2 separate regions of the Homo sapiens genome follow, and region 1 is linked to region 2. The links come from fine-mapping of genetic effects on gene expression. A gene starts in region 2. The other region holds a variant in brackets. All regions are shown on one strand. Distances are from middle to middle. Region 1 overlaps FNBP1 (formin binding protein 1). Region 2 holds the start of TOR1B (torsin family 1 member B).

Region 1 (5,370 bases), 99 kb after region 2:
CCCAGGCTGGAGTACAGTGGCGCTATCTCAGCTCACTGCAACCTCCGCCTCCCGGGTTCAAGTGATTCTCGTGCCTCAGCCTCCCGAGCAGCTGGGATTACAGGCGCCTGCCAGCATGCCCAGCCAGTTTTTGTATTTTTAGTAGAGATGGGATTTCACCATGTTGGCGAGGCTGGTCTTGAACTCCTGGCCTCAAGTGACCTGCCCGCCTCAGCCTCCCAAAGTTCTAGGATTACAGGTGTGAGCCACCATGCCCGGCCAGATCTGGAAGGCTTCTAAAGAAAGTTCTGGTCACAGAAAGAGAAGAGTGTGGCTAGGCACAGTGGCTCACACCTGTGATCACAGCACTTTGGGAGGCTGAGGCAGGAGTACTGCTTGAATCCAGGAGTTCAACACCAGCCTGGGCAACATAGTGAGACCCTGTCTCTACTGAAAAGTACAAAAAGTACAAAAGTACAAAAATGAGCCGGACATGGTGGTGCTTGCCTGTAGTCCCAGCTACTCAGGAGGCTGAGGTTGGAGGATCACTTGAGCCCAGGAGGTCAAGGCTGCAGTGAGCCATGATTGCACCACTGCACTCTAACTTGGGCAAGAGAGCGAGACCCTGTATGAAAAAAAGGAAGGAAGGAAGGAAGGGAAGGAAGGGAAGGAAGGGAAGGGAGGGAAGGGAAGGGAAGGAAGGAAGGGGAAGGGGAAGGGGAAGGGGAAGGGAAGGTAGGAAGGAAGGAAGGAAGGACAAAGGAATAAAAATGATCAGAAGGAAGGAAGGAAGGAAAAGTGAAAGAAGAGTAACTCAGATATTATGGTTTATAAAAGGCAGGGGAATCCAGCAGACATGAAATGTCACCTTCAAATGTGTAGAGAGCTTTGCACGTCCCTATGGCAGGGAGGGGCTCCTCATCATCAAACTCGTCGTCAAAATCCGTGGCCAGCACCTTCATCTCACTCTCCTGACTCTGCTCCTCTGTGTAACTGCCATCTGGGCTGCTCAAGAAAGGAAAACACAAAGCAACTAAAGCGACTGACCCCAGGGAGGACTCAGATTGAGTCCCTGCGACTGGAGAGCACTTGCAACCCCGCCCCTCAGCGAGTGCTGTAACTGAGGCCATGGTAAATCATCGCACGCTCAGATCACCCATCCCATGTGGAATTATAAATCTGCATCATGGAAAAAGTGACAGGTCAATCGCAACAGACATTTTGGCATTGAACAAGTGCCTTATGGTCATTCCAGATTCCAAAATTTAGAAATAAATACAAAGCCAACAGGCTCCCTTGCCAGAGGCAGGCGCTGTGCAGATACTGTACCTCTCACGGTCCTGGGCGCAGTTGTTGACTGTGGGTGGGTTCTGGCTGTCGTACAGTCCGCTCTGCCGGCGCGCCTGCTCGCTGCGTGCTGGGAGCCGGCCTTCAACCTCAGCCAGCCAGGCCTGGAGACAAAAGCAATGAGAGACTCCAACCTAAGGCCATCTGAGGGTCAGCCCAGAGTGTCCTAAGGTCCCAAAGGCCATCTGAGGGCCAGCCCGGAGCATCCTAAGGTCCCAAACTCAGGGGCTACTCTTGGCCATTTAACCCAATGTGAGGAAGTCCACGTGGGGGCAGAATGGCCACGTTTTCTGCCTTCGACTGTTCAAATGTACTGAAGGACGGTTGCTTCCATTTCACCCGAAGTTGGAGACATAGAAACAAACTCATATTTATGTGGTTGCCCACGATGGGGCAGAAAGCACACTGGACTATGCTATCCCCTTGGGCTTTTAAGCAGCAGTGCAGTCTTGGATAAGTCACTTCTAGTTCCTTCTTGACCATGAGGTCGCCCTGTGATACCTGAAGGTACAGCCATGCTTAAAGCAGTGACTCAGTTTGAAAGCCACACTTCCTATTTTTTAGGAGTGTAACTTTTTTTTTTGATAGAAATGAAACTTGTACTTAAAAATTAAAGTAGATAAAATGACCTTCAGCATTTGAAACAGTATAAACAAGTCAAAGGAATAAAAATGACGAGAAGGCCGGGCGCGGTGGCCACACCTGTAATCCCAGCACTTTGG[G/A]AGGCCGAGGTGGGTGAATCACTTCAGGTTGGGAGTTTCAGACCAGCCTGGCCAACATGGTGAAACGCTGTCTCTACTAAGAGTACAAAAATTAGCTGGGGGTGGTGGTGAGCGCCTGTAATCCCAGCACTTTGGGAGAGGTGGGCAGATCACCTGAGGTCAGGAGTTCGAGACCAGCCTGGCCAACATGGTGAAACTCCATCTCCATTAAAAATACAAAAATTAGCTGGGCATGGTGGCACATGCCTGTAGTCCCAGCTACTCGGGAGGCTGAGGCACGAGAATCACTGGAACTCAGGAGGTGGAGGTTACAGTGAGTCGAGACTGCACCACTGCACTCCAGCTTGGGTGACAGAGCGAGACTCTGTCTCAAAAAAAAGAATAATAATAAGAAAAGGACCGTTCTAAGTTCTAAATGCTCAAATGAACATTAATGATGGATTCTGAAAAGAATGGAAAAAGCTGGCCAGGTGTGGTGGCTCACGCCTGTAATCCCAGCACTTTGGGAAGCCAAGGTGGGTGGAGCATCTGAGGTCAGGAGTTCGAGACCAGCCTGGCCAACATGGCAAAACCCTGTCTCTACCAAAAATACAAAAAGTAGCCGGGTGTGGTGGTACACACCTGTAGTCCCAGCTACTCAGGAGGCTGAGGCAGGAGAATCACTTGAACCTGGGAAGTGGAGGTCACACTGAGGTGAGATCACGCTACTACACTCCAGCCTGGGCAACAGGGCGAGACTTCATCTCAAAAAAAAGAATGAAAAAAGCCATAGTTGACCCTTCATTGCTGGAAACAATCTATTCTGACTGGTAGAATCGGTTGCTAATGTATTTTTCCATGCTCTGTAGTCTTTAAACGTGGTAGGGAGAGTGGGTTCAGGAGGCTTTTGTTGACAGCTTTTGAGTGCTCCTCTCCCTCCCTCAAGCTTTGATTATTTATGTTTCCTGCTTGTTTCTCCTTTGTGTTTGCTGCTGGTTCTCACACACACCCTTTCCATAATGGGCCTGCTGAGAGAACAATTGTATATTTCAGGGGATTTTTTTCATTGCTTCTTTGATTCACTGGGATAACGGATCGCTCTATACTCCCAATTTTATTACCATGAGATGAAGCAGAATAACTTAAAGTACAAAAAATACTGGCCAGGCACAGTGGCTCACAGTGGCTCACAGCTGTAATCCCAGCACTCTGGGAGGCCAAGGTGGGAGGATGGCTTAAGGCCAGGAGTTCAAGACCAGTCTGTGCAACAGAGCAAGACCTCAACTCTAAAACAAATAAAAAATTGAAAAATAAAAGTTAGCCAGGTATGGTGGCATGTGCCTGTAATCCCAGCTCCTCAAAGGCTGAGCCAAGGAGATCAAGGCTGCAGTGAGCTACAAGCATGCCACTGTACTCCAGCCTGGGCAACAAAGCAAAATCCTGTCTCTAAAATTAAAAAACAACCCCGCCAACCCCGCACCGTATACAGATACAACATTAAACATTGTCAGGTTTTACAGCCACGATTAAGATAGGCTATGATGAGTAGGAGAATGTTCAACGGCGAAGAGTGTATTTTTCCTTTGACCATAACTCCTGAAACAGCCTGCCATTCCCACTGTGTACCTCCCAGTGAGAGGATCGTCAGGGCCCCACACCATTCTACACCGAGGAACACCTGTTCTTCGTTTCCAACAAAGCTTTCCACAACAGAAGTTTCATACCTCAAATTTCTGGGTCTCTACTCGCAGTTTCTCTATATTTTGGCTGACTTCTGCTAATTTGTGATCCAAACTGGCTGGGTCTCCCATCTGAGGATTCTTTAGGTAGACATCTTTCATTTTTGTTATGGCATCTCTGAAAGAAAGAACGAGTAGAATGCTGTAAAGGTTACTCCATTTTTTTTTTAGACAGTTTCACTCTTGTCACCCAGGCTGGAGTGCAATGGTGCGATCTCGGCTCACTGCAACGATCTTGGCTCACTGCAACCTTCACCTCCAGGGTTCAAGCAATTCTGCTGCCTCAGCCTCCAGAATAGCTGGGATTACAGGTGCATGCCACCACACCCACCTAATTTTTGTATTTTTAGTAGAGATGGGGTTTTGCCACGTTGGCCAGGCTGGTCTTGAACTCCTGACCTTAGGTGATCTGCCTGCCTCAGCCTCCTAAAGTGCTGGGATTATAGGCGTGAGCTACCGCACCACCCGGCAAAGGTTACTCTTATCAGCCAATATTCTACCACTTTGAAAGCCATATGAATGGAAACGTGGGAAGATTAGAGTATGGATAAGGGACTATTGGGCCAGCTTCCATTCTGGAAATTCTCTATAGGAATTCTGCTACCAATGGCTATAAATAAAGAAGCTGATTTTTCAATTTCAGTTCTCTTCTCTAATGGTTATCTCCTTATTGTCCCCAATAACTGAGAAGCATAAATTAATCCTGCCCTTCCCTTTGCCACACAGATAAAATAAATAAATAAATAAAAGCCAATACTTTAAAAATTTTTAATTAATTAATTTATTTTTGAGACCAGGTTATGAGACTGGCTAATTTTTGTATTTTTGGTAGAGACTGCGTTTTGCCATGTTGCCCAGGCTGGTCTTGAACTCCTGGCCTCAAGCAATCCACCTGCCTCGGCCTCCCAAAGTGCTGGGATTACAGGCATGAGCCACCGAATCTGGCTTCAAAACCCAAGTATTTCCAACATGGTGAAACCCCGTCTCTACTAAAATTACAAAAATTAGCCAGGCGTGATGGCATGTCCCCTTAATCCCAGCTACTTGGGAGGCTTAGGCAGGAGAATCACTTGAACCCAGGAGGTGGAGGTTGCAGTGAGCCGAGATCACGCCACTGCACTCCAGCCTGGGCGACAGAGCAAGACTCCATCTCAAACAAAACAAAACAAACAAACAAAAACCCCCAAATATTTCCACGTGTGCATTCTTCATGCAAACCAAAGCTACAGCTGGCATCCTGGGTCTCACGGGCTGCATGTGCTCACCTGACGAAGAAGCACAGTCAATTGCTTTGGAAATGTTAACACACACCCATTTCCACTGTTAAGAAACTGAATCCATAGTTGGTATCCACGACAGGTAAGTGACAGAGCCTTAAAGCTACACACTGTGGATCCCACATCCTTCCTGAAATCATGTCTGGAAGCAGCCCATGGTAGCCCGGGCAGGCATCCCTAGAGAAGTTTGGGGCATGTTTGGGTTGAAGACCAAAGAGCTCTACTAATTTTACCCTTGTTGCAGGGCACTTTTGGTAGGCTTCGAGTCATTAAAAATTTAGAGCAAATGACTGCCAGGGTTAAGGGCCAACTTTGATGAGTGTCAGC
Region 2 (5,370 bases):
TGAAACTGCATCTCTACTAAATCTCTACTAAAACTACAAAAAGTAGGCCGAGCGCGGTGGCTACACCTGTAATCCCAGCACTTTGGGAGGCCGAGGTGGGCAGATCACGAGGTCAAGAGTTCGAGACCAGCCTGGCCAACATGGTGAAACCCCGTCTCTACTAAAAACAGATGGGCATGGTAGTGCACACCTGTAATCCCAGCTACTGGGGAGGCTGAGGCAGGAGAATGGCTTGAACCCAGGAGGCAGAGGTTGCAGTGAGCGGAGATCATGCCACTGCACTCCAGCCTGGGTGACAAAGCGAGACTCCATCTCAAAAAAAAAAAAAAAAAAAAAATAGCTGGGCATCGTGATGCACACGTGTAATCCCAGCTACTCGGAGGCTGAGGCAGGAGAATTGCTTGAACCTAAGAGGCAGAGGCTGCAGTGAGCTGAGATCATGCCACTGCACTCTGCACTCCAGCCTGGGCAACAGAGTGAGCTGCTGTCTCAAAAAAAAAAAAAGTTTAAGCCACTTCCCACGGCCAACTTCTATTCTTTTTTTTTTTCTTCTTTTTTTTGAGACGGAGTCTTGCTCTGTCGCCCAGGCTGGAATGCAGTGGCGCAATCTTGGCTCACTGCAACCTCTGCCTCCTGGGTTCAAGCCATTTTCCTGTCTCAGCCTCCCGAGTACCTGGGATTACAGGCGCGCACCACCACACCTGGCTAATTTTTGTATTTTTTGTAGAGACGGGATTTCACCATGTTGGCCAGGCTGGTCTCGAACTCCTGACCTCAGGTGACCTGCCTGCCTCGGCCTCCCAAAGTCCTGGGATTACAGGCATGAGCCAGTGCACCTGGCCCTTCCATTCATTCTTTAGATCGCAACTGAGATAGGGAGGAGAAGATCCCTCCCCACCCACAGGCCTCTGTGCATCCTGCATTACAGCCTTGGCCCACCCTGGACATAAGCTGCCTGCTTGCTCATCTGTCTCCCTGACTAGTTACCTGGACCACGGCAACAGCCTCTTCACTGGCTCTCTGCCTTCCATTTCTTGTGAACCCAGCAGCCAGAATGATCTCTGATCTGACCATGTTGCTTCCTGTGTAAAACCCTCTGTGGCTCCCTATTACCCCCCAGAACAGAGGCCAAACTCCTTACAACATTCGCAAGGACTTCACCTTCCAGTCTCTGCCTGATTCTTCATCCCTATCTCTCACCACCTTCCGCCATGTGGAATCCTTTCAGTTCTCCAAACTGACTGTTGTTTTCTGCCTAAAACACTCTACTCATTTTTTGCCTGGCCTAACTCCCTCAGTGCCCAGCTTAGACAAAAGCCTTCCCTGTACCACTGTCCGATACTTCTCTGCCCACTCAGCATTGAGTCTCACCCCTTTGTCGGCCTCCCCCATAGACCGTCAGCTCTGAGAGGGCAGGGGCCAACTCCGTCCCCTCCTCTGCTGTCGTTCCTGGCATCCAGCAAGGGGCCTGCCACCTAGCGTGCTGAATGAAAGAATGGACCTCGGGATTTCAGTGTGGAAGCCTGGGCAGGTCTGTCTTGGGGCCGCTGCATCCCCAGTGCTCAGTCTAGGGCGCAGCACGGAGAGTTCGCAACTGTTTCAGGAAGAAGGCAGGCGGGTGGGCCGACCCAAGAAACGCACATTATACCTCCGGCGAAGTGAAGGGAGGGATAACAAAGCAAAGCTTGAGGGCTCCGAGAAGCTCTGAAGAAAACAAATCCAGCCATAAGCCCACTCCTGTAACCCCAGGCTTTGGAAGACGGAGGCAGGTAGATCGCTTGAGGTCAGGAGTTCGAGACCAGCTTGGGCCACATGGCGAAACCCCGTCTCTACTAAAAACACAAAAGTTGGCTGGGCGTGTTGGCGGGCACCTATAATCCCAGCTACTCCAGCAGCTGAGATGGGAGAATCGCTTGAACCTGGGAGGAAGAGTTTGCAGCGAGCCGAGATCCTGCCACTGCGCTCCAGCCGGGGCGACAGAGCCAGACCCTGTCCCCAATATACATATCAGATAAGAAAAAAATATAAGAAAGTTTAAAAAAATTTTTTTTGGCTTTTTTTTGTTTTTTTTGAGACGGAGTCTCGCTCTGTCGTCCAGGCTGGAGTGCAGTGGCACGATCTCGGCTCACTGCAAGCTCCGCCTCCCAGGTTCACGCCATTCTCCTGCCTCAGCCTCCCGAGTAGCTGGGACTACAGGCGCCCGCCACCATGCCCGGCTGATTTTTTCTATTTTTCGTAGTGATGGGATTTCACTGTGTTAGCCAGGATGGTCTTGATCTCCTGACCTCGTGATCCGCCTGCCTCGGCCTCCCAAAGTGCTGGGATTACAGGCGTGAGCCGCCGCGCCCGGCCAGCCTTTTTTTTTTTTTTTGAGACAGTTTCGCTCTTGTCGCCCAGGCTGGAGTGCAGTGGCACGATCTCGGCTAACTGCAACCTCCGCCTCCTGGGTTCAAGAGATTCTCCTGCCTCAACCTCCCGAGTAGCTGGGATTACAGGCGCCCGCCACCACACCCATCTAATTTTTTGTATTTTTAGTAGAGACGGGGTTTCGCCACGTTGAGCAGGCTGGTCTCGAACTCCTGACATCAGGTGATCCGCCCGCTTCAGCTTCCCAAAGTGCTGGGATTACAGGCGTGAGCCACGGCGCCCGGCCAAAAAAAAAAAATTTTTTTTTTTTTTTTTAGATATTTTTTCACTCTTGTTGCCCAGGCTGGAGTGCAATGGCGTGATCTCGGCTCGGCCTCCCAAAGTCCTGGGATTACAGGCGTGAGCCACCGCGCCCGGCCCGAAAAAATTTTTTTAAAAGAAAAGGGAAACAAAACAGTCTCCTACACCTTCGGACCACTCCCAAGAACGATGGCACCGCCCTCCTCTCCGCCCCTCACCAACATGGCCGCCCCCAAGGGAGTGGGCGGGTCTGCGGGGCGGAAGTGACGCACGAGAGGAAGTCCGTCCTGCCGCTTGGCCGCGGGGCGCCTGGCTCAGTGGCTTCTGCGGGCTTCGAGGAGCGGGATGTTGCGGGCTGGGTGGCTCCGGGGCGCGGCGGCGCTGGCGCTGCTGCTGGCGGCCCGAGTGGTGGCGGCGTTCGAGCCCATCACCGTGGGCCTAGCCATCGGGGCCGCGTCGGCCATCACCGGCTACCTGTCCTACAATGACATCTACTGCCGCTTCGCCGAGTGCTGCCGCGAGGAGCGGCCGCTCAACGCTTCGGGTACGGCGCGCGCGCGAGCTGTGGGTCGGCGCTGCGGGGGGCGCGGGGGCGCGGGGGCGCGGAGGGACGGCCTCGTGGGCGCCTGGCACGGACCGGGCCCGTGGCATCTAGACGGCGGTGGTCCCAGCTGGGGTGGGCGGGGAGCGGATGGGGCGGCCCCGGAACCGTTCGCGGGAACGCAGAAGCGGTGCCTTCGCAAACAGTCTCCAGATCGTGGGGCTGCCCCAGCGCCTTTCTAAAGCTCCCGTTCCTTGGGATCACAGGTGGAAGAAACGGAAAGTAGGCGGGCGGCCCTTCTGCGCCCTGCCAACCCTATTAAGTAGTTTTCAGACGTGCTGCGTCGCCCAGAAAGCCCACATTTGGCCCCTGGTTTTCCTGCAGGTCAGCAAGGGTGGCTGGGATTAGCAAGCGCTCAGTCAAGCGATGGTTCATCTCTGAATGAATGAACATTTAGCTTCCTTATCAGACCCCGAAGCGTTAAGGACCTCCACATAATCTTGAAAGTGGCATCGTTTGACTGCCTCGGCCCTAGGGTGTGGCAGACACCCTGCTGTGTCCCTGGATAATCTGTGCTTCTTGCTTTGGCCAGCTAAGAAAGTGCTGCGTTGCTGATGCATTTTTAAGGTCTGTTTCTCTCTTTGTTCTGGGGCTGTTCTTGCAGCTCTCAAGCTGGATTTGGAGGAGAAGCTGTTTGGACAGCATCTAGCCACGGAAGTGATTTTCAAGGCGCTGACTGGCTTCAGGAACAACAAAAATCCCAAGAAACCACTGACCCTTTCCTTACACGGCTGGGCTGGCACAGGCAAGAATTTTGTCAGTCAAATTGTGGCTGAAAATCTTCACCCAAAAGGTCTGAAGAGTAACTTTGTCCACCTGTTTGTATCGACTCTGCACTTCCCTCATGAGCAGAAGATAAAACTGTACCAGGCAAGAGAACCCGCTATTATCTCGTCTGCAGGCCAGTCGGACTGGTCCGGGTGACCTGCTCACTAACTCTGGCCTCTGCTTCTCTTTCCTTTGTGTTGCTGTAGCCCCCGGCTCCACTGAGTTAAGGCACACTTAGTCCAGGTAGTTACAAAGCTCTCCTACAACATTTCTCTTACTTGGTTCCAAAACAGTCCAGTGGGGTAGGGGATGTTATTTCCATTAAAAGATGGGGAGCCAAGGGCCTGGCGCCGTGGCTCACGCCTGTAATCCCAGCATTTTGGGGAAGCCGAGGCGGGCGGATCATTTGAGGCCAGGAGTTTGAGACCAGCCTGGCCAACATGGTGAAACCCCATCTCTACCTAAAAGTACCAAAATTACCTGAGCACGGTGGCACGCACCTGTAATCCCAGCTACTTGGGAGGCTGAGGCAGGAGAATCGCTTGAACCTGGGTGGCAGAGGTTGCAGTGAGCTGAGATCGCGCCACCGTACTCGGTCTCAAAAAAAAAAAAAAAAAAAAGGCCTGGCACAGTGGCTCACGCCTGTAATCCCAGCACTTTCGGAGGCCGAGGGGGGCGGATCACGAGGTCAGGAGATGGAGACCATCCTGGCTAACACGGTGAGACCCCGTCTCTACTAAAAATACAAAAAATTAGCCGGGGATGGTGGCGGGCACCTGTTGTCCCAGCTACTCGGGAGGCTGAGGCAGGAGAATGGCCTGAACCCGGGAGGCGGAGCTTGCACTGAGCCGAGATCGCGCCACTGCACTCCAGCCTGGGCGACACAGTGAGACTCTGTCTCAGAAAAAAAAAAAAAAAAGAGAGATGTAGTCAGGGCCAGGTGCAGTGGCTCACGCCTGTAATCCCAGCACTTTGGGATCCGCCAAGGCGGGCGGATCACCTGAGGTCGGGAGTTCGAGACCAGCCTGACCAACATGGAGAAACCCCGTCTCTACTGAAAATACAAAATTAGCCGGGCGTGATGGCGTGCGCCTGTAATTCAAGCTACTTGGGAGGCTGAGGTTGCAGTCAGCTGAGAATGGGCCACTGCACCCCAGCCTGGGCAACAGAATGAGACTCTGTCTCAAAAAAAAAGAAAAAAAAAAAAGATGGAGCCTGGAGCCCAGAGGCAAGGTGACTTACTCCTACAATCTTTGTAGCAGAACAGGACCTTTGTAGCAGAACCAAAACCTCCCAACTCCCAGTTGACATGGTAGCCACCTTCTCTGGTGAGT

Evidence for each region. PIP is the estimated chance that this variant, and not a neighbour inherited with it, causes the effect.
Region 1: its variant is the best candidate, but not a certain one, in a credible set for the expression of TOR1B in aorta (GTEx, PIP 0.57).

The regions. Positions count from the first base shown.
Region 1 is chr9:129,899,118-129,904,487 of GRCh38, forward strand. It overlaps FNBP1 (formin binding protein 1), which reads right to left. Exons shown (of 17, transcript NM_015033.3): 13 at 3,752-3,884; 14 at 1,309-1,430; 15 at 848-984. Among named protein-coding and RNA genes, the nearest start is that of MIR6855, 32 kb to the left of the region's middle. RefSeq lists an enhancer at 1,546-1,665. The variant G/A (reference allele first, on the strand shown) is at 2,049.
Region 2 is chr9:129,800,201-129,805,570 of GRCh38, forward strand. TOR1B (torsin family 1 member B) reads left to right here and starts at 2,984. Exons shown (of 5, transcript NM_014506.3): 1 at 2,984-3,211; 2 at 3,873-4,138. The coding sequence starts at 3,013. RefSeq lists silencers at 3,064-3,193, 3,254-3,373.